Homo sapiens: one gene and its partner. The protein of the gene in region 2 interacts with the protein of the main gene of each other region in a biochemical or structural test. Each region holds a gene or a part of one and is shown on either strand. Other genes may lie near its edges. The genes, in order: ITGA3 and CD151.

Evidence for each region.
Region 1: the proteins of CD151 (region 2) and ITGA3 form a complex in vitro, tested with the Homo sapiens proteins (one study listed by BioGRID).

What each region holds. Positions count from the first base shown.
Region 1 is NC_000017.11:50,059,110-50,062,609, reverse strand, and holds part of ITGA3 (integrin alpha-3 preproprotein), read right to left. Parts: intron 1-3,500.
Region 2 is NC_000011.10:831,245-835,765, reverse strand, and holds the start of CD151 (CD151 antigen), read right to left. Parts: upstream 2,815-4,521; 5' UTR 2,740-2,814; intron 1,774-2,739; exon of another isoform or gene 1,699-1,773; intron 1,237-1,698; 5' UTR 1,175-1,236; intron 1-1,174. Other genes in the region: CRACR2B (EF-hand calcium-binding domain-containing protein 4A), read right to left, coding at 4,057-4,231, 4,471-4,521. UniProt on the Homo sapiens protein: Structural component of specialized membrane microdomains known as tetraspanin-enriched microdomains (TERMs), which act as platforms for receptor clustering and signaling.

The DNA of each region.
Region 1 (3,500 bases), on a different chromosome or scaffold from region 2:
GCTGGGAAGGGGGTGGGACCTTGCCTATACTTCAAGACAACAGCTCAGACCTCACCCTGGGGAAGTGTTCCTGGGAGAAGGGGTGAAGCTTCCTGGCCAGGGAGGCTGGCAGGGGGCCAGGGTGGCAGCCAGGCCTGGAGAGTCACTTCTCTCTGGGCTGGGAAGGCCTCGATGAGTCCACTGCCTGACCACCCATGGACATCCGCTCTCTGGCGTGCCTGACAGATGAGAGAAGGGACCCACAGCCTGCGGGAAAGGAGCATCTCAGCCTGAGAACCCACGGACCTGGGTCTAGGGTTTGTTCTGCCTGAAGGGGCAATTTCCTTTCCTTCTCTGAGCCCTGAGTGCCCCATCTGTAAAATGGGGGCAGCCCCTCTCCTGCTGACCTCCAGGGTTGCTAGAGGAACAAATAGGTCTATTCTACAAAAAGGTGTTCTGATATGAAGCCATAGCTAATGTGAGCATTGTTGTTCCGATTTGTTGTGGCATCAGGACTGGTCTAGCATGCCTCCAGCCCTCCCTCCAGGGACCCAGGAATTTCTTTTTTTCTTTCTTTTTTTTTTTTTTTTTGAGACAGGGTCTTGCTCTGTCACCCAGGCTGGAGTGCAGTGGCACAACCTCGGCTCACTGCCACCTCCGCCTCCCGGGTGCAAGTGATTCTCCTGACTCAGCCTCCCAAGTAGCTGGGATTACAGGCATGCACCACCACGCCCAGCTAATTTTTGTATTTGTACTAGAGATGGGGTTTCGCCATATTGGCCAGGCTGATGTCGAACTCCTGACCTCAGGTGATCCACCCGCCTCGGCCTCCCAAGTTACTGGGATTACAAGCGTGAGCCACCGTGCCTGGCTGGACCCAGGAATTTCTGCCCTGGCATGTTAGGGAACCTGGAGCAGAGGGAAAAGAAGAGACTCCTTTGGTGGTTTAGAGAGATCAGCAGGGAGACATAGGAAGACTTCCATGGCTTGAGGATACCAGGTGATCACTGGGGTCAGGGTGGGAGCGCTGGCAGCTAGAGTCACTCTACAGCGGGGGCTCAGATCTGGCTGGAGGTGGAGGTTGGGAATTTTCTACAGTGACACTAAGGGGTCCGGGCCTCAGTGGGAGGCCGGGCCTTGGGCACGCCTGTAATGGAAGTGTTGCCCCCTTGTTGCTGCTGCTGCCCTGCCCATGTTGTCATACAGGAGGCAGCTGAGCAAAAGGGTCTCCATGCCCTCCCAGCCCCCTCAACTCAGCCAGGAAGGGGCTAAGGGACTCCCTCCTCTGAACTTCCCAAGGTACTGAGCAGGCAGAGCTGGGCACGCATGTCAATCAGATTGAAATACTTCCCCTTACCACCAATACCCTCCTGCCTGTTGCCTGGAACCAGCCTTATGCCTACTGATAGAGGGCAGGGCAGGGCCAGTGCCCTAATCCCAGCCCTACATCCCAGGCCCCTCCCTCCTCAGAGATTCCAGAGTGAGCCCCCGCTTCACCCCCCCAGAGTATTTTTAGCTTCCACTTGGCCCACTCAGAGGCCCTTTAAGGCCCTCTGGCTCCCAGCCCAGGATCCAATGGGTCTACAGCCAGAGGCCTGCACATGGATGGGGGAAGGCGGGTGTGCAGAGGGTGGTTCCAGCTTCCTCCAGCCACACACACCCAGGTGTGTGCGGAGGGGGTTGGAGAATCCTGAAGGTGAGAGGGACCTTACTGTATGCAAATGAAATGCAAATTAGTACACAAATGAGCAATTCTGCCAGCCACCTGCTTTTAGGTCTGGTCCAGATCACAAAATCCAAAAGCTGACCCCTTCCAGAGCAGTACTGAACCCATCCCCTCAGCTGCAGCCAGAAGGAGGGAGAGTAGGTGGAGGGATGCCTAGATGGAGCTCTTAGAGCAAGGAAGATAGGAGATGGGACTGCCCCTCTCCTGGAGTCAGGCTGGACTGGGGGGAGCAGAGACCCCCAGCCCCCCAGATGGAGTGGGATGGGTGAAGTGACTACTCAAGGGCTTTCCAACAGCTGCCTCCTCACCCTCCCATTGGCTCCAGCCAAACAGCCCCTCTTGGCCTCTGCGGAGCCCCTTGAGCTCCAAGTTCCGAAAAAGCCCTTCCTTACCCCTGCCCTATCACTCCCCTTGGGGCAGTTCAGAGCTAATGGAACAGCCAAGGAGAAAGCAGAAGAATCAAAGAAGGGCGCGGCACAGTACCCAGGAGAATTCAGGGTACCAGGTTGGCTCACCTCAAAGAGGAGAAGGCCCCTGGGGGCACTGGGGTGGGGTAATGCTCAGAGAAGCAGCCTGTAAGATTCACCTTCCCAGATTCTGTCACCTCAGGGAGGCACTTGGTGGCTCCATGGGAGGATTCCAGAGGGGGCCAAAGGATCTAGCACTCAGGCCAACATGGCAGGGCCTCACTCCTTGGGTACCTAGCCTCCTGTGTTCCCCTCCTATCCCCGGCCGGGAGGCAGGTGGGGAGGGTGCCTGCTCCACCTCTGAGCCCCAGAGAAGGGGTGGGGGCAGCTCTGGGATGCCTGGATCCCAGCTCTATGCCAGCCTTGCTGCCCGAATTAGCCATCTCCCCAGAGGCCGGCCCTGTGGCAGCTGAAACTGCAGCCCTCCCCATCCTTCCTGACCCTTCCCTTGCTGCCCACCCAGCCCCCTCTCCCCACTGGTGACTCAGCCCTAGAACCAGAGCAACAAGCTGGAGGGAGAGAGAGAATGAGAAAGGACAGGAAAAAGAGCCCTGGCTAAGCCTCAGATAAAAAAAGAACAAGGCCATTTTTCTCAGTTCTGCTCCCTTTCCTTGGCTCTTCAGTATTTTTCCTGTATTTGACCCCCGAGGGCATTCTAAGTGTCATCTAACCTCAATTCCTCTTACTGCAAAGGGGATCTTCTTCCTTCTTTGTTTACTTCTGACCAAGCCCCCTTCGCTGCTGCTTTTTCTACAAGATCAGGCTTCCCCTACTCCTGCCCAGTTGAAAGCCTCTTGGCCTAGACTGGTCACTGGGTAGAGCCAGAGGAAAAAGATACTACACGAGCAGGCCTTCTGCCTCCAGCCACAGCTGCTGTGCCCATTTCTGCTGGCACGAACCTTGAAGGCTGCCAGGCACCTGCTTTGCCCAGGGAAACATGATGTTAGGAGAGCATGGCAGGTGAGCCTGGCTCCTGCGTACCTCAGGCATGACCTCATTTCTAGGAGCCACCCTGCCCTGGGCTTCCCAGATACCCTCATTTCCAAGCAAAAGTGAAAGAGAGAGAAGGACCGGCAGTATCCCCATAGGCCCACAGGGTCAGGCCAGACCAGAATGCCTGGATTCCCAGGAGGGAATGTCAGTGCAGGTGCTGGAGCAGAGAGGGTGTCAGTAACCACCTCCCAGAGAACAGTCCCTGTCCCTCCAAGGAACCCCTCATGCATCTTGCCAAGAAGCCCAGAGCACTTTGGTCCTCTGCCTGCTCCTTACCCCTCATTTCCACAGACTAGGAGACTGGGCCCTGGGTTGGGGCTAGCCCCCTATGTTGT
Region 2 (4,521 bases):
CAGTGAGCCGAGATGGTGCCACTGCACTCCAGCCTGGGCGACAGAGTGAGACTCCATCTCAAAATAAATAAATAAATAATAAAAAGAGACTAGCAAATTAACCCAAAGAAAGTAGAGGAAAGGAGTCCAGGTGCGGTGTCTCATGCCTATAATGCCAGCACTTTGGGAGGCCAAGGCAGGTGCAATCACTTGAGGTCGGGAGTTCACAACCAGCCTGGCCATTGTGGTGAAACCCCATCTCCATCAAAAATATACAAAAATTAACTGGGCGTGATGGTGGGCGCCTGTGGTCCCAGCTACTTGGGAGGCTGAGGCAGGAGAATGGCATGAACCCGGGAGGCGGAGCTTGCAGTGAGCCGAGATGGTGCCACTGCACTCCAGGCTGGGCGACAGTGAGACTCCATCTCAATAAAAAAGAAAAAAAAGAGGGGACACAGATACCCAAGCCAGCCCAGAAGTCGGGGCAGAGCCAGCCACTGTCCTGGGAGGCCTGTGAATGAGCCCCTGTGGGAACAGGACGTGTCACTTCCTAGCGACTCAGGAGCCCTGACAGCCAGGACAGACCCCTGGTGCCCACAGACAGGACAGGGGTCATGGAGGACCTCCCGCCATCACTGCTGACTCACCCCTGCTAGCGGCCGGGGGAGGAAGCCCTAGCGGGTACCTCCGGTGAGCTCATGCCAGCCTGCCCGCTCCCCACGGCATTCCCGGGGCCGCACGTCACAGGCTGGCAGGAGCCTATGGGCCTGCAGTAAGGGCGGAGGAGGCCACTCAGACAGCAGAGGGGTAGGGGCTCAGACAGGCCCCAGCTCAGCCCCTTCCTAAGCTCTCCAGGCCTGTTTACGGTCTGTTAAAGGGCAGCCCTTCCTTCATCCTGGCCGGGGTGGGGAGAATGGAGCGTGGAGGCAGGTGGAGCCTGGCAGACTGGGAGGGTTTTTCCTGGACAGGCGACCCACACCAACCTGAGGGGGCAGCACAGACAGGCTATGCCCCTCCCCAGATGCCCCGTGCCCGCCCGACCTGCAGCAGTGGGCAAGCTGTGAGCATGGGGAAGCCAGGGAGGGCGTGGGGTGCAGACAGCAGCTGAGCGCCCTGGGCCACGTTTCCAGACAGCACAGCCAGGTCTGGACTTTCGCCGCCCCGCCTGCTCTGCCCCACCCTGGCCAGCACTCACCAGCCGGGCTGGAAACGACTCCTCTGCAGGACAGGTGGACAGAAGCTCCCCAGGACTCTAGGCTAGAGGGGCAAGGACATGTCAGGTCACAGGTTACAGGTCTGGCCCAAGGGCCAGAGTGGGCCGGGTTCATTCTGGAGGCAGAGAGAGGAGTGGCCAAGCCCGGTATTTTAGTCTGGGCTAGGGTGGGGCAAGGCACAAGACATTTTGTTTTTTTCTTTTTTTCTTTTTTTGAGATGGAGTTTCGCTCTGTCACCCAGGCTGGAGTGCAATGGCACGATCTCAGCTCACTGCAACCTCCGCCTCCTGAGTTCAAGCAATTCTCCTGCCTCAGCCTCCTGAGTCACTGGGATTACAGGCACCCACCACCACGCCCAGCTAATGTTTGTATTTTTAGTACAGACAGAGTTTCACCATGTGGACCAGGCTGGTCTCGAACTCCTGACCTTAGATGTTCCACCCGCCTTGGCCTCCCAAGGCAGACGACATTTCGGGACAGTCTGATCCTGGGAGGGACCTCATACCTTCCCCCAGGTGCCCCACTCTTGGCCTTCGCTCCAGACCCATCACTGGCCCTTCCCCCACAAACAGCGGCAGCTACAGCCTGGGAAAGAGGCATCATGGAATGGAGCTGGAGGGGGACAGACCTTACCACTGAGCTGAGAGGGGATATTCACCCTCCATGAAGGAGCCAGGGCCTAAATACACGCAGGAAGGGTGGCACAGGCAGACCCTGCCACCAGCGGGGGGATGTGTCTGCCACCGGGGGGCGGGGTGTGCGTCTGCCACCGATGGGGGGATGTGTGAGCCCCTCAAGGACCTGCCCCTGGCCTGGCTGTAAGGTCCCAGGCTTTCTGGAGAAGTTGGTTCTGGGCACAGATGCGTCCTCCACCGCGAGGACACAGGCGACCCGCTGAGGAGTGGCCCCTCTTCCCAGGAATGCCTGGTCCCTCTGGACCCCCTGGGAAAGGGCCTTCCAGAAATAGTTGTCTGTTCCTCCCCAAGTCCCCGGGACCTGCACCAGGCCCCTGGGCGGCCCGCGCCCTATCAGGGGGAGCCCCAGTCAGGGGGACCTGGGACTCCGCGCCTGCCAAGCGTCCCCGGGGCACTGCAATGAGGTCACCGCCGCCGCCGACCCCGCCCGGCGCGGCCAATGGCGCGCCCACTTGCACGCGGGCGGGGGCTGCTGCGGGCGGAGGGAAGACTGCCGTGTCCAGGGACAATGAGCAGGGTGTCCAGGCTGCGCGTCCCGGGACCCCTGGGCTGAAGGGGGCCGTCAGGCCGGTCCAAGGGCCCGGGAGGCGCCTCTCCTTCCCGCTGCGCCTCCCCAACCCGCCCGGAGTCCGCCTCCCGCGGAAGGGCAGGCGAGGGAGCTGGGGCAGGCGAGGGAGCTGGGCCAGGCGGTGGGTGCGGCCTCCCGGAACCTCCCGGCGCCTGCGGCTGGGCCTCCGGGGCTGGGGCGCGCAGGGCCTTCGGCCCCCTCGCGCCCCTCGCCCCCCTCGCGCCCCTCGCCCCCCTCGCCCCGCTCGCCCCGCTCGGCCGAGCTGTCGTGGCCGCGCACTCACCTACCACGCGTCCGAGTCCGGGCCCTGGCGGCGGCGGCAGCAGCTGCGGGGGCGGCGGCTCCCAGCGCTGAGAATGCGCGGCCCGGAGCCTACGAGGGGGACGCCCCGCCCCGCCCCGCCCCGGCCCCGCCCCGGCCTCAAGCCCCTCCCGCGGCGGCGGGCGCTCGGCAGGTCTGAACCCGCGTGGGTGTAGGCGCTGGGGGTCGACCTGGCACTGCGGAGGCCGGGCGAGCTGCAGCCCTGGGGGCGCCAATAGCCCAGCAAGGGCCCATCCCGTCCAAGGACGGAGGAGCTGGGCGGGAGGCGGGCCCGGAGGTAAGACGGCGACCAGCCTAGCCAGAGGCCCTGGGCTGTGGCGACCCGGCCCTCCTCCATGCCCAACCCCCATCTCTTTCTCCTCACCCAGGAACCGCCCAGAGGCTGCAGGGGTCGGCAGAACCGATGCCGGCCTGGGGCGTGGGAGGGCCTAGCGCTGTGGGCAAATGCGGGAGAAGGGCTACTGTACGTGCAGTGTGGACAGCCTGGAGACCCGGGCAGGCCTGGGGTCCCAGCGAGACATACCCATGGGGTCCTGGGGGGCCCATGCCCTCCAGACTGGAAGGGACCACTGGGAGCGGTGCGAGGAGGTGAGGGACGAAGGGCAGGGCCGGCCTAGGGCTGCACCAAGACGCCAAGAGTGGGAGTGAGGAAGGAGGGGGCTGCCCACCCACCAAGCTCATTCATCACAGCCACAGGGGAGGACCAGCATGGGAGGGGGTGGCCGACTGAGGCCGGGAACCTGCCCGGCCTCCCTGGCGAGACAGTGGGGAGCCCTGATCCACACACTGGCGAGGGCCCCGAGGGGCTCCAGCCTTGATGGGTAGTGTGAGTTTGGGGCATGACCAGGGACACAAGAGGACACGCAGGACCTCAGCCCCATCGCCACAGGCCCGCGCTCCCTGTATTCACCCACACAGCACGCGTGCACAGGTGCCCACCTCATCCATGTGGCACACACAGGCTGTGGCTCCCAGACACACGGAAGGCCCAGGAGGACGCAGTGCAGTCAGTGGGTTTTATTTGACGAGGGGGTTTTCTGCTGAACTGAGATGGGGTTGATTGAACGGGGACAGAGCGAAGACTGGCAGAGGGCACACACGGGACCCTGGCCACTCCCGGGACCCTGACCACTCCTAGGCTAGGTCCTTCATGTCTTCAGTCAGGCGAGCCTGGGGCCCACTGGGGAGAGCCTGCATCCTGAGTGGGCACCCCCGACCCATGACAAGCCTCCTGCAAGGGCAGCTTCTAGCTCATGGTCCGTGAGTCACTCGGGGCTGGTCACCGGGCACTGGGAAGGTGGCCAGAGCCGCGTCTGGGGGGCCGAGCCCAGCAACAGCAGCAGCAGCAGGTGGGCCCAGGCAGGCGGGCTGTTGTCAGAGCCTTCCTGCAGCTGCTGCCCGCCCGCCTGGCCTCGCAGGCGTCCCTGTCATCCCGCAGCCGTGTATTCAGCTCCCTAGGGAAGGAGGAGTCCGACACTGAGAGGGTCTGAGGGAGCTCAAGGTGGGGGGAGGTGAGCTCCGACTCCCCTCAGAGCGAAGAGAGGTGTCTGGCTGAGGCTGCAGCGTGAGGGGTGAAAGGCAGGCATAAGGAAGGACTTCCAATGGAGTAGAGCGGCAGCCAAGAATGTTGGGGAGCTGGGAGCCCCCAAGCTCCGCTGAGCCCATTCCCTCTCGGGCCTGAGCCTGACCGTACCTGAGCAGCTCCAGTTGCCGTAGCAGGCTGACTTTCTCTTTCTGCATGTTC